Homo sapiens: one gene and its partners. The protein of the gene in region 4 interacts with the protein of the main gene of each other region in a pairwise test. Each region holds a gene or a part of one and is shown on either strand. Other genes may lie near its edges. The genes, in order: RNF8, CHERP, DMRTB1 and RBFOX2.

Region 1 (7,029 bases), on a different chromosome or scaffold from region 4:
ACCATCCTGGCTAACATGGTGAAACCCCGTCTCTACTAAAAATATAAAAAATTAGCCAGGCGTGGTGGCGGGTGCCTGTGGTCCCAGCTGCTCTGGAAGCTGAGGCAGGAGAATGGCATGAACCTGGGAGGCGGAGCTTGCAGTGAGCCGAGATCAGGCCATTGCACTCCAGCCTGGGGGACAGAGCGAGACTCTGTCTCAAAAAAAAAAAAAAAAAAAAATTGAGTGAAAGAAGACAGACACAAAAGAATACATATTATATGATGCCATTTATACAATGTTTAAAACCAGGCAAAATTTACATGTGCTGTTAAATCTGGATAGTAGTCACTTTATTGCCAAGGTGGCTACTGACTAGAAGGAGACACACAGGGGTTTCTGGGATGCTGATAATGTGGGGTTTGTTTTGTTTTTGACCTTATGGTAGTTACACTAAGATGTTCATTTTGTGACTGTTCATCGAGTTGGTACATTTATGATTTGTGCACGTTTATGTTTGCATGTTCCGCTTTAGTAAAGACTTTAAAAAATATATTGACGGATACATACTTAATACAATTGCTGAAATAAGACTTGATGATACCAAGTGCTGGCAAGCATGCAGAATAACTGGAACTCCTCAACATTCAAGTGTGAATATAAAATGGTACCTCCACTTTGAAAAACTGGTGGTTTCTAAGAGTCAAATATATACTTGTCCAGTGATCCTATTTCTAGGTATTTACCCAAGATTAATGAAAGCTTATGTTCTCGCAGAAACTTGTATGTGAATGTTTCTAGTGGCTTTATTTTTTTTGTTTTTATATTTTGAGATGGAGTTTCGCTCTTTTTGCCCAGGCTGGAGTGCAATGGCGTGAACCCGGCTCCCCAAACCTCTGCCTCCCGGGTTCAAGTGATTTTCCTGCCTCAGCCTCCCGAGTAGCTGGGATTACAGGCATGCGGCACCACGCCTGGCTAATTTTTGTCTTTTTAGTAGAGGTGGGTTTCACCATGTTGGCCAGGCTGGTCTTGAACTCCTAACCTCAGCTGATCCACCTGCCTCGGCTTCCCAAAGTGTTAGGATTACAGGCGTGAGCCACCACACCTGGCCTGTAGTGGCTTTATTAATATTCACCAAAAACTGGGAAAAAAAACAACTAGGGAATGGATAAACTGTGCTCCACCCCTACTACCTTCAATATTACTCAGCAATAAAATATAACAAACTGCCGATAATGCAACAGTGTGGACGAATCTCAGAGGCGTTACACTAAGTGAAAGAAGCAAGACTCAAAAGTGTAGATAATAAGATTCCATTTGTATTACATTCTGGGAAAGAGAAGAGAACAGATAAGTAGTTGCCTGGGAATGCGGGAAAGGTTGACTACCAAGGGGCACTGTTTCTTGATATAGTTACACAACTATATGTGTTTATAGATAAATGTAACTTTTAAAATACTGATACTTAGTTCCTATCTCAGACCACTTAACTCACTCCGAGGGTGAAACCTAGGCACTGCTCTTTGTTTTAAACCTTCCCAGGTAGTTTTACTGTATAGCCAGGGTTGAGAACCACTGAGCTACGTAAATTATCTAAAGCACTCCAAGAAAACATTGTCTTTTGGTTTGAGTGTCCACTTTCCTCAATAACTGTTTAAAAGCAGCTGGACAGAGATTGAGCATCTAGTGAAGTAATTCCTGTCTAAGTGGATGTGAATTATCCCACTTTTTTCCCATTGGTGGCTAGGACACATCAGGCAGACTTTTCTGGGTATCATTTTCTGCTGCTAGCATTGTTCAAATGGGTAGTTATGAAAACCAACATTAAGAAAGCCTTGAACAGAGCATGATTATTTAAGCCATTGTATTTGAGATCATATCTGGCAGTACTTGATTGTTCTGTACCGCCATGGGATTTTTGTCCTTTTCTAGTCTCCTTATATGAACAGACCTGACTCAGGGCTTGGTTTAAATTATACCACTAGATGTCACCAAGAAGTAATGAATGGGTAAATGTACAAGGATCCAAGGACAAAATGTGATGGGAGAATTTTGAGTTTACCTTCCAGCTTCTAAAAGGGCTCTGAAGGCAATGGGTTAATGTAGAGGATCTAATGGAAGGCTGCAACATATCGTGAAAGTTTGCCCCAGCTTCTGAGGGCAAACTTACTCTCTTTAGCTGTGGACTGTCAGAACTCAGAAGTTCTGAGGGCAAACTTCCTACTCTCTTTAGCTGTGGGCTGTTTCTGTAATCTTATTTATTTATTTTACCTTATCTTAGCTTTGGAGACTTCCTTTAAATTTCTGTACCTTGGCATTAGGTGGCCTTCTGTGTCTTACTACTTTTTCTGAGACCTTTTTCCTGTGTATAATCTAAAATCGACTGTCCTGCTCTAAAATTGTTCTCAGATAGATTGTTCTAGCTCCATCCCTCTCTGTTGTTATTTCTCATATGTTGTTTCAAAATTCAGCAAACCTTATCACTCCCCATAGTTTCTCAGGCTGAATAGAAAGAGTGTGAGGAGGTTTCCTAGATGAACCAGGTTAGGCCCAATGCACAGTGGGTTAAGACTAATATTTCTGTATGTATCTATGCCAGTCTTTCTTTCCGTGTAAACCAAGTAATGGAAGATAAAACTGGAAACAAGGGCCTAATGCCAAACCAGAGCTAAGATCTGATCTCTACTTTCCCTTTACCCTCTGTGCCTTGTGGTCAAGCCCCCTGTCCCTCATATTTGGGTTGACTGGAGATTTTTTTCTAGCTGAAAGTAGGTAGCTGTAGTTGCCAGTGTAAACATAAATCTTGGTCCCAATTCAGAAGTGAGCTTCATCTCTGGCCTATCCCCTGAACTTAAGTCCTTGATACGGGTTAAAATGCTCACCAGTATATTTCAACTCTGAATCTTGCCTTTGTTTCAAGTCTATTTTAGGACCTATCATCTCCATTTAGCATCCCATAGCTATCCCAGCTGCACATGATATTCCTTTGCATTTACAGGCTATGCCATGTAATCCCACATTTGCTCATTTGTGCCCTTGTGTTGTCTTTTCCACCATCAGCTGCTGAAAGCTTTCATGTCCTTTTCACTCAATATATTTACCTTGCGTGACATTGAGCATAGAGTTGAAATGATTGTTGATGAATCAGTTGAACCAAGGCATAGTAATAGTAGTGAACACTTACGTAATACGATGCCCAGGCACTGTCTAAATACTTGCCATATGTTATCTCATTAAATCCACACAGACACCATGAGGGAGAGACTTATTTTCCTCCATTTTATCAGTGCAGTAACTGGGCCATAAAGAGGTCAAGAAACCTGGCCAACATCACCCAGCTGCTAAATGATAGAGCCACATTACAAACCCAGGCAGTCTGACTCCAGGATCTGTGCTCTTAACCTCAATACTATGACTTCATTAAAACCATAAAAGTAAATTTTTATTTTATTTTATTTATTTTGGAGACAGAGTCTCGCTCTGTCACCCAGGCTGGAGTGCAGTGATGCAATCTTGGCTCACGGCATCCTCTGCCGCCTGGGTTCTAGTAATTCTCATGCCTTGGCCTCCCAAGTAGCTGGGATTACAGGCACCCACCACCACACCTGGCTAATTTTTGTATTTTTAGTAGAGAGGTGGTCTCACTGTGTTGGCCAGGGTGGTCTTGAACTCCTGGCCTCAAGTGATCCGCACACCTCGGCCTCTCAAAGTGCTGAGATTACAGATGTAAGCTGCCACTCCCAGACAGTAAATATTTATTAAGCATTTATTCTATGTGAGTCATTGTGCTAAGTGATTTACATGCATTATCTTATTCATTCCTCACTGGAACAGTGTGAGGTAGGTACTGTACCATCCCTGTTCTGCAGACAAAACTGAGGCATGGAGAGGTTAAGTAAATTGCCAAATGCTATGCAGACTATGAACCCACATCTGAGTCCAGAGCTCCAGCTCTTAACCGCTATCCTGTATTGCCCATATACCCCTGTTGATATTAATTGGGTCAGATCCTACCTGCCATTTGACCCCAGTACCAGATATAGTACTCTCTTTTTTTTGGTTTATGTGTGCTTGCTTGCTTACCAGTGCGTTAAGGAACCACATCCAGAGATAGCATTTGAAACTACTTCATGGACCTCACCCTTAGCTACTGCTTTCTTCACTAATAGCATTTTTTCTAGTTTTGGGACATTGCTCCAGTTTAGGTTAATAGGAGCTATCCAATTTCAGTTTCCTTTAATGCTATTCCATGTGTTTGAGTAAATTATCCACCAATAATAAGGTGATTCCTGCCTGTTATATGGCAGTTCTCTGTGGAGGCATGAATGTGAAATATAGGTAAAAAGCCAAAGCACTGCTTGACGAATGCTGTTTCTAAGGATGGTCGTTTATGAATCTTTCTTTTCTATTTGTTATCAAGAGTTTTCCTTCTGAAAAGGCAGAAGATTTTACAGCAGCAGGAGAGAGATTCCTTTAAGAAGACGAAAATCATGAAGCTTATTTCTTCTTTCTTTCACTTTCCCCAGAGTCTAAATGGTGTTTGGCTGAACAGAGCGCGTCTGGAACCTTTAAGGGTCTATTCCATTCATCAGGGAGACTACATCCAACTTGGAGTGCCTCTGGAAAATAAGGAGAATGCGGAGTATGAATATGAAGTTACTGAAGAAGACTGGGAGACAATATATCCTTGTCTTTCCCCAAAGAATGACCAAATGATAGAAAAAAATAAGGAATTGAGAACTAAAAGGAAATTCAGTTTGGATGAATTAGCAGGTCCTGGAGCTGAAGGCCCCTCAAATTTGAAATCCAAAATAAATAAAGTGTCTTGTGAATCTGGTCAGCCAGTGAAATCACAGGGGAAAGGTGAAGTGGCCAGTACACCCTCTGACAATTTGGATCCTAAGTTGACTGCCCTTGAGCCAAGTAAGACCACAGGGGCTCCCATTTACCCTGGCTTCCCCAAAGTCACAGAGGTTCATCATGAGCAGAAAGCCTCAAACTCTTCAGCATCTCAGAGAAGCTTACAGATGTTTAAGGTGACCATGTCCAGGATTCTGAGGCTCAAAATACAGATGCAGGAAAAACATGAAGCCGTTATGAATGTGAAAAAGCAGACCCAAAAGGGGAACTCAAAGAAAGTTGTGCAAATGGAGCAGGAACTTCAGGACTTACAGTCCCAGCTGTGTGCAGAGCAGGCTCAGCAGCAGGCAAGAGTGGAGCAACTAGAGAAGACTTTCCAGGAAGAGGAACAGCATCTTCAGGTACCACACAGAAGGGAAGGGCAAGAGTGGTCTTCAGGGGTGGGGCAGGCACTTCATGAGTCTCTGGCCAGAGTTCTCAGTTTCTGGGCCAGGTACCAAATTCTGAGCACCAAAGACAGGAAATGGAATGGGAACAGTAAACTTTTGAGATAAGGGAAGGGGATTGAGTAGAGGGTTAAGGCTTCAGCATGCTGATGAGATCAGGAGCCAGAGTTAGAGTGCCAAGATAGGGTAAAGTGACCAGCAGAGCCAGCCAGGGCATAACTCATCCCAGGAGGCAAAGCTGAGGCAACTCAGAACCAACATGAATTCAGGGGGAAGTTAGGTGAAGGTCAACATGCCACAAAACCACAGTATAGTCCAATTGAATCAATAGTTGTCTTCAAGACTTGTGTATCTTTGCTCTGTGGCCAAGGCCAAATCACTTAGTCTCAGGGCAGGTACAGGTCAGCTGGTTCCTCTGCCCTGGTACCTGACAGTTTGTTAGCTATAAAGGTTAGTTAACTCTGTAGCTAAGCCAGGAGGTGAGGGGCTAAAAAGGCAGAAAATGTTTTTGTTTCTATTTTGAGCAGCCAGCATGTGATGGGACAGATGCACCATGACTGCATTGTTGGGTTGAATGATAAACCACCTTCCACAGTGCCTATAGTAGGAAGGTAAAATAATGACTGTCTTAGCTGTATAAAGGTAAGACCAAATGTATTTCCATCCCTCAGTCATTTGCTTAGATGACAAGCTCTTGCACAAAGCTTTAGGCTAGAGCAGATCCTGTCCCTGCTCAAAATGTCATTTCCTATCTGGCAGGAACCACATATTTTGCTCCCACCCAGTTGCTCAGATAATATTGAATGTCAAGAATTCCCCATTGTTGACTTAGAACTCAGACGGACCAGTCACAACTAAAGTGAATAAGCTTTTTGTTTGGGTTGCTCAGGGTAAGGAACAGCCAGGGGTAGTGTTGGCTTATTTCTGAGCAATTTATAAATTTCATTCTGATCTCTGCCATCCCCTTGAACTGACAGTATTAGCAAAGGCCATGGATTAAATAGGTCTTTTGAGAGTATACACTGCTTACTTATGTGTACCTTTTTGCTTCCCTTATCCAGCCTAGACTAGTTCTTGAAATTAATAGAGGGTGGTTTATGTCTACGTGTTTAGTATATCACACCTTCACCAGGACAGAACTCTCTGTAAAGGCTAATATGTTCAGGAACAAGTTACTGTTGCTTAATATTTGTGGCTGCTCTGGACATGCCTCAAGGTATAGCTGCAAAATCTTTTTCTGTACCAAAATGTTAAAGGCGAAAGGATTGGTTTAGAGAATTTCTCTGGGTATGAGTTGGTTGTGTATATGATGCTCATAGTGAAGTGTATCTAGTCCCTTGTTTATCAGCTGCATCTCCCTCTGCCCACCAAGCCCTGAGGATTTATCCTATCCCCTACTGCTGGTTTAGAAGCTCATTAAACCCTTGCTCCTTCACACTTTTTTTTTTTTTTTAAGTACTCAAATTGCCTGGTACTAGGGAATTCTAGTGGTTATAAAGATGCTTACCAAATGGTTTTTGCCATTAAGGAATTTATCTTGTTGAGGAGGCAAGATGTTTCCTGCACACGATATAATCAGAGAATAGTTTTCAGTCAATATAGTAAATTAGAGAACAATTTCAAGTTGGCATATTAAATGGGTAGGTAATTCTTAAGGACAGAAGGGCCCAGAAGTTCTTTTGGAAGGTGCTGGACATATAGGTTAATGATCACCTGGAAAGCTTCCACATTGGAGGGGGCTGAT
Region 2 (7,029 bases), on a different chromosome or scaffold from region 4:
GGGTGGGGGGTCTCTGTGAGCCACCAGGCTTCTGTCTCCAGGACTGCGAGGTCTAGGTGTCCTGTGCACCTTCGCTGCATGCCCTGTCCTCTCCCCTAGACCCCGGCCTCACCTGTCACATTGCTGTCTCCTGGGGGCCACTGTCCCCTGCACTCCTTCCTCTCATGGGGCAGCTTCTTGGCGTCTCCTTGTTGCCTTCTCAGCCACGGCCTCCTTGGCCTCTGTGTCTGTCTCCTGCCCTCGTCACTGATTTGCACGCACACACACGCGGTCACCTGACTTTGCTCAGCCATCAGGACCCTCCTTTGGGATCCCCTTCTCCAGCCCTGACCCATCTCTCAGGCTTCAACAGAGCCACATCTGCCGACCCTCTGTCCCCACCCAGCCCTCACCCTTCCCACTGTTGCTGTCTCCACCCTCCCCAAGGTTGGGTGGGTATTTCCTTCTACAGGGTCACTGGGGCCCTTCTCACAAAAATTAGCAAAAAAGAAAAAAAAAACAATAGAACCCCAGGCCAAAGGCCCGCACGTGCGGGAGGAGACAAGCATTGCTACTGAGCCTAGCGGGCAGCAGTCCTGGCCTGGCGCCTCGTGTGCCTCTACAGTGGGCCAGGCTGCCAGCACCCATCTCGCCCCATCTATCACATGCAGCACTGCCTGAGTCCCTCTTGCCTCCCCACCTCAGTCCCTGTTTCTCTCCTGCTGGGAAGTGAGTTGCGGCTCGGCACCAGCTCTGCCCTTCTGCTCCTCCTCATGCCTCCATTTCTCCCTGCCTCTGAGTCGGGTGCCTTGCACGGATGCACAGTTTCCCGCATTCTCCAGCCACGCGCCTCTCTAGCTCTACTCTGTCCGAAGCCAAGTGCTGCTCGCCCAGCCCAGGCCCTTGCTCCCCTGAGCCCCCTGCGGCAAGCTGAGGGCTGAGGGGCTTCCAGCTGCTCCCCTCCTGTCTTGCGTCCCTCCCCAGGGGCAGCCATCTCCCTGCGCAGCGGCAGGGGCCTCCCAGGCCAGGTATGCACAGTGTCCTGTGCAGCACTGCACAGCAGCCCTGAGAGGACATGGGCCCGGCGCCTCCCCCCGCTGGGCATCCGGTCACTCTTCTAAAGTGTTCTAGGTTCCTGAGGGACTGGGCACCCTCCCTCCTTCTCCCAAGAGGCCTGGCCTGGGCCGAGGTTTCCTTGTGCATAGTGAGTGACAAGGACAAGACCCCCACTCCGCAGCAGTCCCATCCCGCCCATCATACACAGGCAGGGGCTCCCGCCGGCCCATATCCCTTCACCCGCAGCGCCACCCAAGAGGGAAGGAGGGAAGGTTATTTCCTATCAAGGGGACTGGACCAAAAGGCCTTGCTCAGAACGGCCCCAGGCCACGTTCTCTCCCTCCCCTGCTTGCTGTTTTTCCATCTGTCCCTTCCTCGAGCCCAGGCACCAGCACAGGTCTCGTGGGAGCCCAGCCATCGCCCTGACCGGGTTGGGGACCCGATTCCCGAGAAGGCAGAGGGCGCTGAGGCTGGAGCCGCGATGGTAACGGGCGCGTGGCCGGGTCCCGCCCCAGGGCCCTGACGCGCGGAAAGTCTCTCCCTCACAGCCAGCGCAAGCAGGCCCGGGAGCTGCTGGCCGCCCTGCAGAAGGTCGTGGTGCCCATCTACTGCACCAGCTTCTTGGCCGTGGAGGAAGACAAGCAGCAGAAGATCGCCCGGGTGCGTGGGCCCCGGGCCGGGGGTTGGGCAAGACCGGGACACACAGGCCTTTCCCCTCCCCACTGACCCGGCCTCTCTCTCCTCCCACCGCCAGCTCCTGCAGCTCTGGGAGAAAAACGGCTACTTCGATGACTCCATCATTCAGCAGCTACAGAGCCCAGCCCTGGGGCTTGGTCAGTACCAGGTGAGTGTCCCTGCCCACCCACACCTCACCCTAGAGCTGGGGCGGGTTCCCCAGGAGGGTTTGGGAGTGTGGGGACAGCAGCTGCCACCCCAGCAGCCAGAGAGCCCATGTCCCCTGCCTGTGCTAGGAGTAGCCAGTGTGTGTTGACCAGAGAGTCCCAGGTGACATTTCCCAGGCCTTAGGTGTGTCTCCCTGACTTTCCTGGAACACTAGAACCAGGCGGCCTTTCGGAGTCATTGCACATGGCCCATTTGCTCTGGTGGTCAGGCATGTTCCGGTGTGGTGGAAGCATGAGGAAGCCCAGACGTGGCTTAGGCTGTGGCAGCCCCTCTTGCTGAGAGCCACATGGCGAGTGGGAGGCAGAGCCCATGAGCGTGTCCCAGAATGTTGGTGGGCAGTGTTCGCTGAGCAGCCACGAAGCGGCCAGGACACGGCTGTCGTTGCTCGTTCTGTTATCAGGGAGTCGTAAAACACGCTGCAGCGAACATCCTCATCCCCAAATCTCTGGCCAGATCCCAGCGCACACTGATTGCCCAGACTGTGTTGGCTGTTTCACGTGACGGTTCCCTGTCCACCTGCCCCAGGTCCCCCAGGCTCTGCTGCTTTCCAGGCGTTTGTCCTCTGGCGCCAGGCAGCGAGCCCCAAGGCCGCATACTGAGCAGCGGGTGCTCTTCTCTCTCTCAGGCCACCCTCATCAACGAGTACTCCTCAGTGGTCCAGCCGGTGCAGCTGGCCTTCCAGCAGCAGATCCAGACCCTCAAGACGCAGCACGAGGAGTTTGTCACCAGCCTGGCCCAGCAGCAGCAGCAGCAGCAACAGCAGCAGCAGCAGCTCCAGATGCCGCAGATGGAGGCTGAAGTCAAGGCCACGCCTCCACCGCCTGCTCCACCCCCGGCCCCAGCACCTGCCCCTGCCATCCCGCCCACCACCCAGCCTGGTACGGGGCTCCCTCAGCTCAGCCTGCCCCCAGGAAACAGCCCCCAGAGGCTGGGCACCGAGTGTAGTCAGAAAGCAGTCTGCCACCCTCAGACTCAGTTCTTGTTCCCTCGTCCCAGGCCTGCTCCTAGGCCCAGGTTTTCATCCATTTACAAGCACGAGCCAGGTGATCCTAGAGTAAAACTACAACCATCCCATTCCTGAACAGCAGAAGATCTGTTTCCTGTTCCCAGAGAAAAGAAATAGAGGAAAGGTACCCAGATCATTCCCCAAGACTAGGGTAACTATTACATCAGGCAGGAAGGACAATGCACAGACTGAAAATATAATTGGCTAGGCATGGTGGCTTACGCTTGTAATCCCAGCACTTTGGGAGGCCAAGATGGGCAGATCGCTTGAGCCCAGGAGTTTGAGATTAGCCTGGGCAACATGGTGAAACCCCGTCTCTACTAAAAATAGAAAAATGGTGCTCACCTGTCGTCCCAGCTACTTGGGGGCTGAGGTGGGAGGATCACTTGAGCCCATGAGATTGAGGCTGCAGTGAGCTGCATTTACACCACTGCACTCCAGCCTGGGTAACAAAGCGAGACCCTGTCTCAGAAAATACAATCTAGTGTCACTTCTGAAAAAGACACGGAAATACTGAAGGAAATCTTAGCAGAATCTAGCAAAGGATTTTGTTTTTGATTTTTTTTTGAGATGGAGTCTTGCTCTGTCGCCCAGGCTGGAGTGCAGTGGCGTGATCTCAGCTCACTGCAAGCTCCGCTTCCTGGGTTCACGCCATTCTCCTACCTCAGCCTCCTGAGTAGCTAGGACTACAGGCGCACGCAACCATGCCCAGCTACTTTTTTGTATTTTTAGTAGAGACGGGGTTTCACCGTGTTAGCCAGGATGGTCTCGATCTCCTGACCTTGGGATCCACCCACCTCAGCCTCCCAAAGTGCTGGGATTACAGGCGTGAGCCACCGCACCCGGCCTAGCAAAGGATTTTAAAATTACATTCTGATCAAAGAAGATTTGTTGTAGGAATATGAGGATTGTATAGAATAGAAAATAACAGATGTGGGGAAATGACCTTTTAATTAGATACAGTAAAGATGTCTAATCAAATTCAGTGTGGATAGAAATTCTTCAGCAAACCAAGAAGGCAGAAGTGAGGCCTGTTTCTTGTAAAGCTTTGAAAAGGACAGATGTGTGTCATGTTCAAGGTCGAAACCTCCCCTCGCCCTGTCCCCTTCCTGGAAGCCAGTGATAGTCATGGTTTTAGTGGGTCCTGAAGCGATCATCCACTGGGCACTAAAAGCGGTAGCCTGGTTTGCTCTGGGGTAGTGTGGAGAGGAGACAGCGCCTCCTGCTGCCAGGCCTGCTCTAACTGCCTGTCACTTGGATTTAGATGACAGCAAGCCTCCCATCCAGATGCCTGGCTCTTCAGAGTACGAAGCTCCAGGAGGGGTCCAGGATCCTGCAGCTGCCGGCCCCCGGGGCCCCGGGCCACACGACCAGATCCCACCAAACAAGCCCCCTTGGTTTGACCAGCCTCACCCCGTGGCTCCTTGGGGCCAGCAGCAGGTATTGATTGGAACCTGGGGTGGGAGCAGATGGGGCACACTTGGCCTGATGGGGTAGCCTCCCCTATGCCAGTTGGTGGGCGTTGAGTGGCTTACTGGGGAACAATGAGGGATATTCTGTGGCAGAGCTTATGCTGGGTTAGTGACAGCCCTGTCTTCCTGTGGCTCCGGGACAGGTCAAGTGACAGGTCTTCACGTCCCTTCCCCGAGCTTTGATGGTTTGGGCTTCTCTGTAGTATAGATCACCATTGTCCTGCGAGTGCAGGGGAGTTTAACGCTGCAAGGCACGGCAGGGTGTTCTGTTTCCTGTCCTCCTTAAACAGGTTAAGCTAGTTGAGTGTCAGTGTTTTGTCATCCTGGAAAGAACAAGGTGCTTTTGTAAGGAAAGGGGGAATGTCAGAAATGTCAGCCGTGTTGCCCCTGGGAGGCCTCAGATGCAGCTTTGCTATGGGTCACATACCCCTGGGCCAAGGCAGGGGCCACCTTATGTGGCACAGCATGGCTGTGAAATGCCCTGCAGCGTGCTGGGTCCACTTTCAGCACTGAGGCACAGCCCCGGGTCTTCCAGGGCGTGACTTTCCCCCTTGCCCGTGGGGCCTGGTTGGCTTCGCAGCGTGGCCTTTCCAGGTGACTCCCTGTCTGCAGGGACAGGTGTAAGGATGGCAAGGAGACTGGCTCTGGACTGAGACTTGGTGGTTGTGGCTTTGAGCCTCCCATCCCCAGCTTCAGGACACGAAATTGAACCTCACAAAAGATTGGACACCCCCATAAAGACAGCTCCCACCTCCAAGTGCTGGCCAGGAGCCAGATGGTGGTGGCTGTTTTGCAGGTACCCTCTGCTGGGGGGGGCAGTTCTTGTCCCTGTTTTGTAGGTGTGGAAACAGGCCCTTAGTGTCTCCAGGCTCAGTCTTTTTGCAGACCAGAGGGTTGGGCTCAGGACAATGGGCACGCCCCTCACTGAGGGTGCCCGCTAGGCCAGCAGTGCATCCTGCAGTCCACACTGAGAAACAGCAGCCTGGCCTGCTTGACTTGGCCATGTGGGGTCTTAACACGTTTAAAAGTAATTTCTCAAGGCAGGAAGATTGCTTGAGGCCAGGAGTTTGGGACCAGCCTGGGCAACAAGGCAAGACTCCATCTCTACAAAGAATAAAAATAAGCTGGCATGGTGGTGCACACCTGTCGTCCCAGCTACACAGTGGTCTGAGGCAGGAAGATTGGTTCAGCCAGGACTTCAGGCTTCATTGAGCTATGGTCATGCCACTGCATTCCAGCCTGGGTGACAGAGTGAGACCTTGTCTCTAAAAAAGAAAAGCAAGGCTGGGCGTGGTGGCTAACGCCTGTAATCCCACACTTTGGGAGGCTGAGGTGGGCAGATCATTTGAGGTCAGGAGTTTGAGACCAGCCTGGCCAACGTGGTGAAACCTCGCCTCTACTAAAGATAAAAAAATAGCCGGGCATGGTGCCAGGCGCCTATAATCCCAGCTACTCGAGAAGCTGAGGCAGGAGAATCACCTGAACCCGGGAGGTGGAAGTTGCAGTGAGCCAAGATCGCGCCACTGCACTCCAGCCTGGGCAACAGAGCGAGACTGTCTCAAATTAAGAAAAAGAAAAACAAGTAGTTCCTGATATTTAATATCTGGCTCTCTGGCTTCTCTTGGAAGCCTGGTGAATGTGGCAGCCTGGGCCAGCCTCCCCTTAGTAGGGGTCAGCGCAGTTACCCAGCTGTGACCCTAGACACCGGCCTTCTCATTGGCCTCTGTGCTCCTCCCCTCCCCTGCCCAAGCTGGAGTTTGCCCTCCTGGCTTTAAGTCTCCAGAGCAGAAGCTGATGAGGGAAGAGCCTCCCGTCTTCAGTCTACAGGAAGATGCTGGCTTGGTTTGAAAGTCCCCAGAAGCAGACCCCAGGACAAGGATGTGTGTGCCGCAGTGTATCTGCCCAGCAGACGGCTTTTGGGGAGAGGGGGAGTGAGGCAGGGCAGGGGGTGTCAGAGTGAGCCCCGCCCCATGGGTGCCTGGGGTGCCCTGAGAAGCGATACCGTCTGTGCCTCTGCACCTGCCCCTGAGGGGCGAGGGAGCTGGCGTTTGTCTGGCAGTGGTAGCGGGGAGCACCTTGTGGCGCGGGCGGCCTGTGTGCGGGTGCAGCGCGCCCCAGCGGCAGAAACAGCCCCGGGACTGAGATGCGGGTGCAGCGGTTGGGTGTCTGGTCATTTTGCAGCAGCATGTGGTGCGGGCTGAGAGCAGGTGCCCAGCATCCTCGCAGGCGTCAGCGTAGGAGGCGCCTCAACGTGGCCAGGGCAGCGCCTCCATGGTCTGAGCCAGCGCTGTGATGCTGCCGAGCGCTGTGATGCTGCCGAGCACTAGGGCCTAGACCACGCAGGGCTCAAGCCTGTCCCTTCCCTTGCAGCCGCCAGAGCAGCCACCCTACCCGCACCACCAGGGCGGCCCACCCCACTGCCCCCCCTGGAACAACAGCCATGAGGGCATGTGGGGCGAGCAGCGCGGTGACCCCGGCTGGAACGGCCAGCGCGACGCGCCCTGGAACAACCAGCCCGACGCCGCCTGGAACAGCCAGTTCGAGGGCCCCTGGAACAGCCAGCACGAGCAGCCGCCCTGGGGCGGGGGCCAGCGCGAGCCACCCTTCCGCATG
Region 3 (5,619 bases), on a different chromosome or scaffold from region 4:
CTGCACAGTGTGGAGCCAGTCCAATGGGGCTCGAGCTTCACCCGGGCAGGTTGGGCACACAGGTCACTGGGTCCTCACTCCTGCTTCAGCCTGGCGGCAGCAGCTTCTCTTCCACTTATCTTAGATGTTGTGAGATTGTGCTTAAAAATCATTTTCCACTGATTCAAGGGAAGAAAGTTTGAAAGCCACTGGCCTTGATAATTCCAGGGTGTCTATTGAACCTTCAAGGCAGGTATTATACCCCATTGTAGCATCGAGAAAAAAAGGCTCAGAGAAGTTAAGTTTTTGGCCAGGGTCACAAAACTGGTGAGAGAGAGACTGGGATTCCAGTTACACAGCTGGTTGGTGACAGAGCCGGGTCGTGCACCTCAGTCGCCCTGACTCTGGAGCCCAGGTGCTTTCCACTGCCCTTCCCTCCCTCCCACAGAGGTAGAACACACATGGCCCTTGACTCACACCAGCACTGCTGCCTGCCTGACATCTGTGGGCACTGCCCAGGGAGAGCCAGGCATCTCCAGCCTCCACACAAAGAGAGGGGCTCTGGCCAAGTAAAGCACGTTCCGTCTGCTCACACAGAAGTCTGGAGCCTGGCGTCCAGGGCAGCGCTCTGATTGACAGGCCTGCCAGACGGCCTTTGTTAAGAGTGTGATCTCAGTCGGTTTATCTGGGCCTGAGCTGCCACCACAGGCCCCAGGCAGGAGCTGTGATCCAGGGAGATGCTTGGCTGAGAAGCTTGGAATTAAAGCACTAATAATCCCTCTTCCACCCTCTCAAGTCTGGAGAGAGAATCAGGCATTGATTTGTGAGCTGTTTCAAACCCAAGAGCCCCTGAATCACTTTCATCCTTGTCCTGCTGCCCCCTGCCAAGGCTTGGAGGTGCTCTCCAGAACAGTTTCCTCCTTCCTGTTCCTGTCCCTGCCCACCTGCTGCTGCTTGGCTTCCTCTGCCCTCCTGTTCACAGGACAGCACTGGCCCTGGAGGTGGGCAGACCTAGGGTCCAATTCTGCCTCCCCCGTCGTGTCCCAGCCACGTGACCCGTGGCAGTTATCTGACCTCTGAGGACCTCACTCGGGTCTTGGTCTGTAAAATGGGAGTGAGAGGACCTATCTATTAGGGCTCCTGAGAATAGATAAGGCGATGCATGTAAAATACCTAGCACAGGGTCTGGCACATAGTAGGTACTTAAAAGTGAGATTTCTTCCCTTCCTGCTGGTTGAACGAAGTTAGGAAGTGCTGGGTTAATCTAAGGAGATTTTTGCAGACTCTTCCAAGCCTTTAATATGCTCATGTGTGACCCACTAATGTGGGGAGCAGTATATGGGGTTTCTCAAACTCACTTAACAAAGAACACTTTTAAGAGTACTAAAAAATACTTTGTAGGACACCAGGACTCCATGAAACTCAGCTCAGGATGTGTTGCTCTGAAGCATCTGGATAGAGAAGTGAATGACAGGAACTACATCCAAAACTCAGTATTATTTCTTACGACATTTGTGTGTTTCTTGGTTAAGCTCTGAGTTGTGCAGTCATCCCCTCTCCAGATCCTCTGATGGGGCCCTGTGCTGTGGTAAGGGGTTGGATTCCATCCCTTGAAGAAGGGACAGAAGCAGCAAAATGTTCATCAGTGAGGCCACTTGCCTGAAGTCACCCAGTGTATCTTGCCTCAGAAACAGCTGCGCTACACCCACATTGCCAACCTCTTCTCCCAAAGGCCCCCCTGGCACTTGAGTTTAAGTCACCACATGTGCCAGACAGGGGGTCCTGTGGGGTTGGGATGCGTTCAGACCCTTCCCCAGTGCAGAGCAGCGCTGGACAGAAGTCAGCTGAGTGGGCTATGGAGTCAGCCAACTTGGGATCCAGTTCTGCCCCTTAACCACAAAGCAGCTCTGCGGCCCTGGGCCTGTAGCTTCATCTCACTGAACCTGTTTTTCATAATTACAGCAAGAATAGTAATAGAACCCACCGCCTAGGATTCTGAGCACCCAAGCACAATCGCCCTGGCATATACAGAAGGGCTCTGTCACTGTGACCGTTCAGCTGTTCCCATGCTTATCTGAGGTTGCCTGTGTTCCTTCTTGCCTTCAATAATTTGGCAGGTGTTTGCTGAATGCCCCCTTCCAAATGCCCTGTGCCTGTGTGTTTGGGGCCGTGCATCTACCCCATCAGGAGCCCCCCACTTCAGGGGTGAGAGCTATGTTTGGTCAGCCCATCTGGCTAACTCTCTCTCCTCTCCGCCTCTCTGCTGTGTGTGCCGTGCAGGTGTCAGAACCAGGAGGAGACTTCCAGCCAAGCTACTACCTGCCGCCGCCGCCGCCGCCACTGCCGCCCCTTCCACCGCTTCCACCGCAGCCCCAGTTCCTCCCGCCAGGCTACCTCTCTGCGCTCCACTTCCTCCCCCCGCCACCGCCACCACCACCTCCATCATCTTTCTCACTGACCGTCCTGTTTGATACTGACAAGGAGAACACTGGTGAGTGAGCTCCAGTCTTCCAGCTTCAGCGAGAGCCAGGGAGACTTTCTGGAGGAAGAGGTACCTAATCTGAAGAAAGGTTAGGTGTGGAGAGAAGGGACATGGAATTTAAAGGGTGTTGAGCCCTAGAATGAGCTCCTTCTTACACCCTTCCTCCAGTCCCCATAGGCACACATCTAAGGGAGGTGGGAATGGGATTCCAGGTGAGGAAACCAGGGCCTCCAGCAGTTCTCTTGGGTATAAATGGCAGAGCTGGGATTTGAACAGAGTTTTTCAGTCTAGCTCCCAGTCTAGTGCCTGTTCACTCACCTTATTGGCTCGTGGGCGGTGCTGTGGAAGACAGCAGGCATATGGTGTGTTTGGAAGACCAGAGGTGCCAGGCCTCTCTAGCTGGGGTAGGGGAGCAGATGGAGAGACTGGAGCAGCAGCAGGAACCCGTGTGGTGGGGCTGTGCCTCTGCCCCAGGCCACTCTGAGGGAACCAGACCAGGAGCTAGAGAATCTGTCCTTCACAAGCTCTGCCACTGGGGCACTGGATGATCCTGGGCACTGAGGCTTTTCAACTATAAAAGGGGCCCCCTTACTAGGTTACTGTGAGGGTCGAAGAAACTTTTGGATGTGAAAATGTTTTGGGTTTTCTTTTGAGGGCCCTTGCAGCTTTAAAGCTTCTAGGACATTTTTCCTTTCAGTCTTCCCCTGGGGCTCCTATGATTTGGAAAGAACTGACAAACTCAACTAGGCCTTTAAAATGACTGTCAGACCATCTTATGAGCTAGAGGAGTCTGGTGGTATCACCATTTTACTGAAGAGGAAACTGAGGCCTGTTGCACACTTCCTGTGTGTGCAGTGCCTAGATCCAGTAGCTGGAGAGGTGGTTTCATGTGGCTGAAAACCACTGGCCCCAGTGCTGGGTGGCCTGGGTGTGAGTCCTGGCTCCAGCACTTGCCCAGCTGTGTAACTTGAGCAAGCTCATTTACTCTTTGGTGCTCCAGTTTCATCATGTGTAAAAGGAGACTAATAATGGTCCCTACCTCATGAGGATTCTGAGGATTAAACAGAACCTGAAGTGATGAAGGCATTGGTGAAGGTGGCCTATCACTGTCTGTTTCACTTAGTGCCCATGCTGCCATTGCAAGGTGGATACGTCTCATTTTACAGAAGGGGAAGCTGAGGTTCAGAGCTGTGGAGTATCTTGCTAATTCCTCCCAGCTTGTGACGAGCAGAGCAAGAGCTGGAACTTGAATCTGAATCACATGGCCAAGGCTAGGATTCCAGGCTCCTGGCGCCTAACAAGTTAAAGAAAATACATTCTCCCCTAGGGCTGGGAATGATGAGAAAGGCTTATGGAAAATCTGTATCTGGGCTGGGCACAGTGACTCACACCTGTGATCCCAGCACTTTGGGGAGGGTGAGGTGGGTGGATCACCTGAGGTCAGGAGTTCAAGACCAGCCTGGCCAACATGGGGCAACCCTGTCTCTACTAAAAATACAAAAATTAACTGGGCATGTTGGCGGGTGCCTGTAATCCCAGCTACTCAGGAGGCCGAGGCAGGAGAATTGCTTGAACCTGGGAGGTGGAGGTTGCGGTGAGCTGAGATTACACCACTGCACTCCAGCCTGGGTGACAGAGCGAGACTCTGTCTCAAAAAAATTAAAATAAAATAAGAAAAAAGAAAATCTTCATCTGCAAATAGGTAGTTGTAATTTTCGCTCTTTCTAAATCCAGCTACCTTCTTTGTCCTTCACAGATGACCAGGATGCAGAGGTACTGTCGGGTGAGCCCAGCCAGCCATCGTCTCAGGAGCAGTCCGACTAGGCCCCAGGCCCGCCCTCCTGGCCAGCAGAGTGGGGCACTGGGGGGCAACAGCAACAGTTTTCTTGTCTTCATTCAGTGATATGTAGGGAGGAAGGAGGTTGATAGCATAGATGGCAACTGATTCCCAGTTTAAGATAGGAGGAAGGAGAGCAATTTCTAAGTTTCAATCCTGCGCTGTACAGTTGAAGAAGAGTGTGGAGGAAGCTATTACCAGGGGAGGGCCAGGGCTCTGAGGAGTGGGCGCTGGGAGAAGCTCCCATTTAGGAATGAATTTAACTGTCCTTGGGTTACACTACCATTTATTGGAACAAGCCCCAGAGGCAGTATTTGATTTCCTCAGGCCCCACTCTAGGACAGGAGGCACCATCTATTTCAGCCTTCTGCTGCCTTTGCCTGGTCCTCCAGGTTGCTGGGGGCACCACAGACATCAAGATTCCAGTTCATCCAGGTGGCTGGAGCCAGCAGCCAGGACCAGGGTCGTTGACAGCAGGTTCTGCAGCATCCTGCCTTGCTGCTCTGTCCCCCACATCTTCCTGGCCACAGCCCCTTGCCCCTCCTCTAAGGGGTTTTACTAGCAAGCATCCTGGCTGCTGGGGCTACTTCATTCCCCCTCCATAAAGTTTCAGCCATTATGGGCACTGGTTTTAAAAAATTTATTAGTTTGACTATTTGATGTTTTTATAGTGATTGCCAACTTTAAAAAGTAGGCTGTTCATAAGCACTGATGCAGTCCCTAGGGAATAGAATGGTGCTTCTGATCACCTGTGACATGAACAGTTTCTTCTGTGAGGACAGTTGGCTATTGAAATAAAATGAGCAATGGAAATCCTTGTGGAAGGCTTATTCTCCCTTTGATCCTGGTGGAAGGTAGGGTTGGCAGGAGCCTGAGTTGGGGAGATTGGGGGCCTTGGTTTGTGGCCTGTGGCTGGCCTTGTCTGCACTTGCTTAGTTCCTATTTTTAGTTCCTGCCCTCCCTGTTCTACCTCCCCTTTCTTTATCAAGTGAGGGGATTGGGCCAGGCTAGTAGACTTCTTTATTATTACTGTTGTTATTTTAAGCAATGGAGACCTTTTAAGGAAATCTGATGTAGACACACAAAATGTAAAGATGTCTTAGTTTCCTTCCTCCAGCTCCTTCCATAGTCCCTGCATAGGAACATGCATTTAAAAAAACAGAACTTGAACCAATTCTGTTTTAGGGTCCTCGGCTTCTTCCATTGGTTGCATTTATACCTTCATTTAGAAAACATCCTGTGTTTCTACTAGATTCAGAACTTGACAGTTCCCAGCTCTGCCCATGAGGAACATGACATCTAGTGGGAGAGACAGAGAGTC
Region 4 (7,029 bases):
GGTAGTAAATTCAGCCTTTCATCCACCATCAAGGTATTAAAGCCACATAGATCTACCTGGAAGTTTCATGTCACCCTCTTTATTTGTGTGTTATTATAATGTGAGCCACATGGCCTAGTTAAGGGCAGCAGAAAGGAATGATCATTGATAATATGCCCCGAGTAGTGGCATGATTTGCGAGAGAAATAGGGGAACTGGTGAATGTTTTCTATTGGTTCAAATGTTGAGTGCATACCTGTGGCATAGTTTCATTGATAGGTGTTGGCAAAGGAGCATGGAGCATAAGGCTGTAGTATTCACAGTAAGCTTTTCAAAAACTTAAGTTTCAAATGCAAATCTAAAGGATGTCTCTGCTCTTCCTAAGCCTTCTGGTAGATAGTACTAGAAATTCCTAAGTGAATGCTTTATAGGATATTTTATTATTGATTATTGATAACAATTGTGGCAAAATATGGTGTTGTTGATAGAAGTATCGAAGAAGTCCATAGAACTAGCATAATTTCTTCTGACCAACCACCTCACTGCAGTATTATTGTGTTGGCTTGGATGCCTCCAGTTTCAGTGATTAGGACTCACAGGCTGCAACAAAGACAGGCCATTCCACAGTGACACCTCTGCCAGGGCTTTCTCTCTAATCCAAAATGCAACTGGGCAACTACCTCTGGACATGGGTAGAGTTGTTTGAAAAGGAGACAGAATGAAATGTAAAATGTAAGACCTAAAGGAATATGAGAAAGCTACTTCTCACACCAAATTTCTACTGATGAAGATTTGTGGAAGGAAGTAATAGGGGGCCCTGAGGGAATATATGTTTATAAATGAAGTAGAGCATTACAATATAACGGCAGTGGTAGAAGTGCCTGAGGTTGTATTTCGTCCTAAAATGATATAAGTCCTATGCTAAAAGAATGACCTGAGAAAGATGCATTCCTGGGAAACTTCTAATTGAAAGAGATAAGCCATTAGATAAAGTCATTTGATAAACATAAAGGAATAAAGCCTAGTTAAAACCCCAGCTAGATATGTAAATGTGAATATGTCAAGAAACAGCCTAGTTGGTGTGCTTCGTAGATGATAGAGGAAACAGACTTTATTAAAGACTGGCTCAGGTTTAGATGTGGCACCATCTCAAACATGGGCTGTGACCACACATGGCAGGGATCGTGTCAGAAGTAACGTGCACTGCCGATGGGTCATATGTGAGAAGGAGAAACTGGTGATCTGTTTTCCACCAGGATTATAAGGCTGTATCAAGGTAAACAAAAACCTGTGCTTTTAAAAATCAAACTCTTTGCGGAACTTGTTTTCAACTGTGTATTGTTTCCCTTCTGTGCTAATTCATGTAAATAATGAAATAAAATGTCGTCATACTCTCCTTGAGAATATCAGGTCAGCAATAAATGTGTTGGGCTCTGGTCTGAGCACCTTAGAAGCAGAAGTTGGTTTCCTGACTTCACTGCACAAGGCAATGCTTGATCAGTTGCTTTGAGGCTTCGAAGCAGGCTGTTTCTAGATCCCTCTCTGGACATTTTTCTTCACTGTTAATGCTTCTCTCATCAACCTTTTAATTATTTTTATCTCTTTAATTACTGCAGGCGAGTTTATACCGAGGTGGCTACAGCCGATTTGCCCCCTACTGAAGTGACGTGAGACCCCTGCAAATGGGACAGCCCCCCAGTTCATGAGGCCTGGCTATTGCAATATTTACTAGTAGAGGAACTCTATAGCAAGATGAAGAGGAAAAACAAACAAACAAACAAAAAAAAACACAAAAAAAGAAAGAATACTTTTTTATACCTCACTATGTTCTTTGAATATGTATTTTTCCTTTAAATTTCTGCCTTTAATTCTTTTGTTCCAAAGATTGTGCATTTTTTTCTTTTTTTTTTTAAACTGTGGTAAAAAAAAAAAAAATAATGCATTTCCATGTCTGTATGTCCGTGCTTAGCTTATTCTATCAATCACGGAAGAGGCAGTCAAGGAGGAAGGAGAGACATTAGGAGCCGATAAATGCATCTGATCAGAAATCAGCAGACAGAATTACCAAAGTGTATCTGGTGCTGAATGACTGGGGGACAAGCAGAAGTGGAAGAGATCTTTCTGCAACAGGATATTCTTCTAGTCTTCTGAGTTTCTGGTCTTTGACAGGCAATTCTGGTTGGCTGTGGCTGGAATCCACATGCTGATAGATAGGAATTTGTGCTTACAAAGCAGGAGAATTAAAAAGACGCTTTCCTCTCCTCTTCCCTCCTGTCTTCTCCGTTCTTTTTACAATCATCTTACACGCACAGCCTGAGACAGCTGGCATAGTTTTTGGAATTATAGTATTGATATTTCCAAACGTGCTCTCAGACAGTGGATAATAAACACCTCATTAGGAAACCGATCTCAGAATGAACTCTGGAGTATGAAAAAGATCATTTCTTTTTGTTCCTGTAACCTAGCATTCCTTCTAGGCTTCTTCTCCTTTAATTGAACCACAGCTTAGCTCATGTATTCTTTTATTAACACCCTGCTCTCATGTCCATAAGATTCAGGAATTTAGGACCCAGGGACAGAAAAGTGAATAAGCCAGTGACCAGATTTCCCCCAGATGTCTTGAGGATTAGAAGTACAAATTGTTGACAGCCATTAAAGAGGGTGAGGAAGGGAAAAGGAATATTAGAAGATCTGGTATTTCTTACTTTTTTCTTGCCTCAGAAAGTACAAAGTTTAAAAAATAGAATAAAGAATCTGCTGGGGAAAGATAGAGTACCAGGTCCTAGGTCAGTAGTCCCTGGAAGTTTTGGTGATGAGGACATGGAAGGGCAGGCAGAGGCACTTTGTACTTGCTCCAAAGCCATAGGAATTTTCATCTTCCAGAGCCTTTATGAGTCACTTCTCTATCCACAGTCTTGAGCCTGTGGCTATCCCGCTGAGCTTCTCACTGTCCTCCAAAAACACCCCGCTGAGCACCCGGACCACTTTGTACACATTAACACTACAGGACATAAAATGCAGAGGCCCTGAGATTGCTGCCCTCCCATATTGGAAGGAGGGTCTGCGATGGCAAGGGTCTTCTATATCACCAGAAAGAGTCGCGCAGTGAGTCACTGCCGTTGCCATCTGGCTGTAATTTTCTATGTTATCAAGGTAGGAGGGAGTGTTTCTCTTCTAGCTGTTAGATAGAACTGATAAAAGCAAGTGTCCTACAGCATTTCCCAAATGAAGGCATTAGGAAATAGAAAAGCACGGTCTTTTTGGCTCCCTGGTCTAGTCACATTGGTACTAGGGTGACCTTTCACCCAAGGGACAGCTGCTAAAGGGAGTAATTCAGAGACATGGAGCTTCTGGTTATGGGTTTGTTTTGGGTTTGTTTTTAACTCCTGCCTCCACACATGTTCTTGACTGATAACTGACTCATGTCCCTGAATTAAAATGACTGACCTATGACAGCATCAAGCATTCTTTGTAAGCAGAGTGATATATCTGAGAGGGCGTTGACCTGTTGTGTAGAATACATATCCTTTCCCCCTTCAGAATCCTGTCTCGCCTCGTAACTGGGAGAGAGGCTGTGCCTGAAACTAGGGGCGATGTCAAGGAAGCTAGAGGCCTCGATGCAATTATTACTGACTCTGGGGAGGAAGACAGAGAATAAGGGGACACCAACTGCCCAGTCCACTGGCCATTTTTAAGGGTCCCCCCACCCCAAGCCAAAGTTTGGTTTGTTGCTGTTAAGACAATTTTTGTTGTATGTATATAAATATTTTAGTTAGAGGAGCGGGGAATGGGATGCGGGCTTTCACAGTTCTAGGGAATGGGGGCAGGGAGGATTTTGCTTTTGCTTTTGCTTTGAGGGAGAACTTTAGCTGACTAAAAAAACAGAAGTTTGGGGTCATGATCACAAAGGGGCCATTCCCAAAAGATGGCAAGCCACGTATTCAGTGGAGACTAGGCCAAATTCTAAATGGTTTTATCCATAGCAGGGGAGAATAGGAGAATGAGTTTAAGAGTTTTTCTCTTCTTTTTTCCTAGAAAGAGGTAAGGATAATGGGAAAGGTAGAGAAGGCGGCTCCCACAGACCTTTTAAGAGAGGCAGAATCTTGAGCTTGAGGCACCTTGAGTGCATCTCAGTTCAGCTGGTTCTGGCTGAGGCCTCCAAAGGCAAGCTCTGTGCTTTCCAGTGGTTTCTGCTGCATTTCCAGGGATGGTGTTTAACACCGCTTCCTCCAGCTCCCTTTTCTAAGAAAGAATAAATGGAGTTCTGCTTTTTATGAAAGGGTCTTTGGTTTTCAGTGTCAACACTGAGAATTGGGGCTCTTGCAAGCATCTGGATTTCACAGTATCAACCTCCCCGTCACCTTTTGAACTTTGAGACTCCGTACGGTCAACTTCACCAGAGGCAGGTTGCTCGAAGCAGCACTGCTTGTCTGTTCCTGACTCTGGTTCTCACTGTATTAAAAAAGAGAGTCAGAGGAGTCTGGCATTTCGTGAGTTTGTTAGAGGATGCTGGCTGATAATTCCAGAAAACTTACTGATGCTAAATCACAGTACATGCATGATTCTTTTTCAGCTTTACTATAGTTCATGACCTGGACTTTCTGTACTCTTGGAAGCTGGGCTCCTTAAAGGAGGCCTCTAGTGAACACCTTTATCTCCATGTCCCTCTTAGAGCCCAGAGAGCTGCCCATAGGCATTTTCCAGAATTCCTCATGTCACCTAGTTCAATTTCCATTAACTCAGATCAGCCATTGTGATTCACCATTTGTCAGGCTCTCAGGTTTAACAAAACCTACTATCACCATCATCCTTCAACAGCCACAGTCTGAATTGAGCCAACATTTTTTTTTCTTTGAGAAAGAAGTGGACTGGGGCACAACTTTTAGTCTGAGGGGAGCTAGTGGAAATCTAGACAATAGAAGTCATCGATAGCAGCTTTTCCTCAAATGTGTGACTCCTCAGGGGCTAAACTGCTCTTAGCTTAGAATTATGCTTTACTAGAGATCTAGCAGATAAGTGGGTTAATCACTACCATCCTGTAACTAGTTATATAGCTTCCAGACATGAGGGAGACATCAAACAGGGATGGAAGCAACCCCAAGGATATGCAAGAAGGGCATGATGAACCCCCTTCCCTCTGGCAGGAGAACAAGGCCAACCAAGGGACAGACTGGAAAGCACTTAGATGTTTAAGGAGGAGAAAGGGGAAGCTTTGACCAGTCCTTGCCTTTTGCCAAGTTCAGCCAGTTCTCCGCTGCTTGCAACCTCTAGCGCAGTAACATTTGCAGAATTGCAGATTTTCCCCCAGATACTAGGAGGAAAGGGACTTTGGGGGGTGGGGAAGGGGTCGTGGTGTTTTAAAAGCATAAGTTACCTGTTTGCACTGTTTTAAGATAGGAAAAAAAAATAGTGGGCAAGGTGAACATCAGACGTAAATTTGTGTGTTTTTATTTTGTCATGCTCTTGAAAATGTTTGACCATTTGTAGTATACACAGTGAAACTTGATTCTCTGTTGCATAAAACACTATATTTTTTTGGAAATGTTACTGTCCAAAAGCCTCTTCCCTCCCTTTCCTTTTCCTATGTACTTCCTTCATACTTGCTTTACTGATCAGCCAGGCAATAGCCATCCAAGAGCTAGAGCATGAAACAGGGCCCTTTCCAAGTAGGCTCTGGGTGTCCTAAGCCAGCGTGTGCCCTCTGGTTTAGTGAGTGTAATAGAGTCCCTGGCACCTTTCTTTGCAAATGAGGCTAACAGACCAGACTGCAGCAAGTTATCAGATTCCTCAATCAGATGCACTAGGAGTGAGGAGCCCAGGGATGGAGGGGGTTCCTGAAGTATTGCAGTTGGCTGTAGTAGCTGAGTTCTTTTCCATGTTACCGAAACTGTAGCCAGTTACAGTTTACTCAGGAAAACGGTAGATCAATTCAGCCATGGTAGTGCTGGTTGGCAGGGATTGGTAACGGAGAGAACTGCTCATCAGCCAAAACTCAAGCCTTGCCTTTTAGGAGGCCACCAGCAGAGGGACTTGGTCCTCCTTGTCTGGTACTTGTGTACATGCCGGTGACCTGAGGACTCCACTCACACTGGCGAGCAAAAAGGGAGCAGTGATTCTCTTTTCTCTCCCCACCCCCTGCCCTTTGTTACCAACACCAGTTTCCCAGGGGGTACATGAGTTTCTGAATTTTTAAAAAATGTTTTTGGTTTGGTTTTTCTGGGGACTGATAAGTGCTTTAAGCAATGTCCATACCCCGTCAAGACTCCCAGCTTAGTCATTTTCTTGTATTTTTCTGTTCACAGTATTTGTGTGTGTGCTTGTTTTGGCAGCTCATTTTGGCTGTATTATATATTGAGTGATGAATTGATCCTCTTTTTTCCCTAAGGGATATGAATTGTTTTTCTTGTGTTATATTCTGCTTGTGAATAGCTGGAGCAAACCTGGGGCTGACACGCGTAAGCTAGGGCTGCAAAGCGAGAAGAGAGCCGGTGGAGTGTACTTGTCCCTGACAGGCTGACCTACCTGAGTCTCTGAGCTTTTCAGTCCAAATCTTTGCAAGGCTCAAAATGCCACAGAACCTCTCCTCTTCTCCCCACTCCCCATGGCAGGGACCGGACCATCCCTACATGCAACATGCTGTTCCTCCAGCCCCTCCCATTGCCATGGCAAAACAGGTACCTTTGGGGCATGGGGGCATTACATGGGATGCTTGTGTAATCGACCACCTAGCCTTCTCTCTCCCCTCCCGTCCTCCCCCAGAATCACTTCCTAGGACACCCGAGCTGCTTGCCCAGGGTCCTGTTTCCCTGCTAACTCCAGAGAAGCATCCCAGGGCTTTGTGACAGTCTCTAATTCCCTTCCCTTCTCGTTAAGAATCATATTGTATAGTAGCTTTCAGACCATACAGTATTCATTGGGTTACTCCTATTATTATCAAGTAGCTGGAATTGTGAAGGTCGGAGTAGTTAGATCTTTAGCTTTTATTCCTTATTTTTTTGTATTACTCTCCATGTGTATAAATTATTGATCATGTTGCTGGCTTTTATAAAC

Evidence for each region.
Region 1: the proteins of RBFOX2 (region 4) and RNF8 interact in binary tests that used the Homo sapiens proteins (3 or more experiments, as listed by UniProt).
Region 2: the proteins of RBFOX2 (region 4) and CHERP interact in binary tests that used the Homo sapiens proteins (3 or more experiments, as listed by UniProt).
Region 3: the proteins of RBFOX2 (region 4) and DMRTB1 interact in a two-hybrid assay, tested with the Homo sapiens proteins (3 studies listed by BioGRID).

The regions. Positions count from the first base shown.
Region 1 is NC_000006.12:37,363,979-37,371,007, forward strand, and holds part of RNF8 (E3 ubiquitin-protein ligase RNF8), read left to right. Parts: intron 1-4,399; exon of another isoform or gene 4,400-4,505; coding exon 4,506-5,240; intron 5,241-7,029. UniProt on the Homo sapiens protein: E3 ubiquitin-protein ligase that plays a key role in DNA damage signaling via 2 distinct roles: by mediating the 'Lys-63'-linked ubiquitination of histones H2A and H2AX and promoting the recruitment of DNA repair proteins at double-strand breaks (DSBs) sites, and by catalyzing 'Lys-48'-linked ubiquitination to remove target proteins from DNA damage sites.
Region 2 is NC_000019.10:16,525,435-16,532,463, reverse strand, and holds part of CHERP (calcium homeostasis endoplasmic reticulum protein), read left to right. Parts: intron 1-1,583; coding exon 1,584-1,695; intron 1,696-1,789; coding exon 1,790-1,879; intron 1,880-2,563; coding exon 2,564-2,816; intron 2,817-4,208; coding exon 4,209-4,384; intron 4,385-6,786; coding exon 6,787-7,029. UniProt on the Homo sapiens protein: Involved in calcium homeostasis, growth and proliferation.
Region 3 is NC_000001.11:53,462,378-53,467,996, forward strand, and holds the end of DMRTB1 (doublesex- and mab-3-related transcription factor B1), read left to right. Parts: intron 1-2,259; coding exon 2,260-2,470; intron 2,471-4,217; coding exon 4,218-4,285; 3' UTR 4,286-5,111; downstream 5,112-5,619.
Region 4 is NC_000022.11:35,738,816-35,745,844, reverse strand, and holds part of RBFOX2 (RNA binding protein fox-1 homolog 2), read left to right. Parts: intron 1-1,595; coding exon 1,596-1,640; coding exon of another isoform or gene 1,641-1,650; 3' UTR 1,651-7,029. UniProt on the Homo sapiens protein: RNA-binding protein that regulates alternative splicing events by binding to 5'-UGCAUGU-3' elements. Prevents binding of U2AF2 to the 3'-splice site.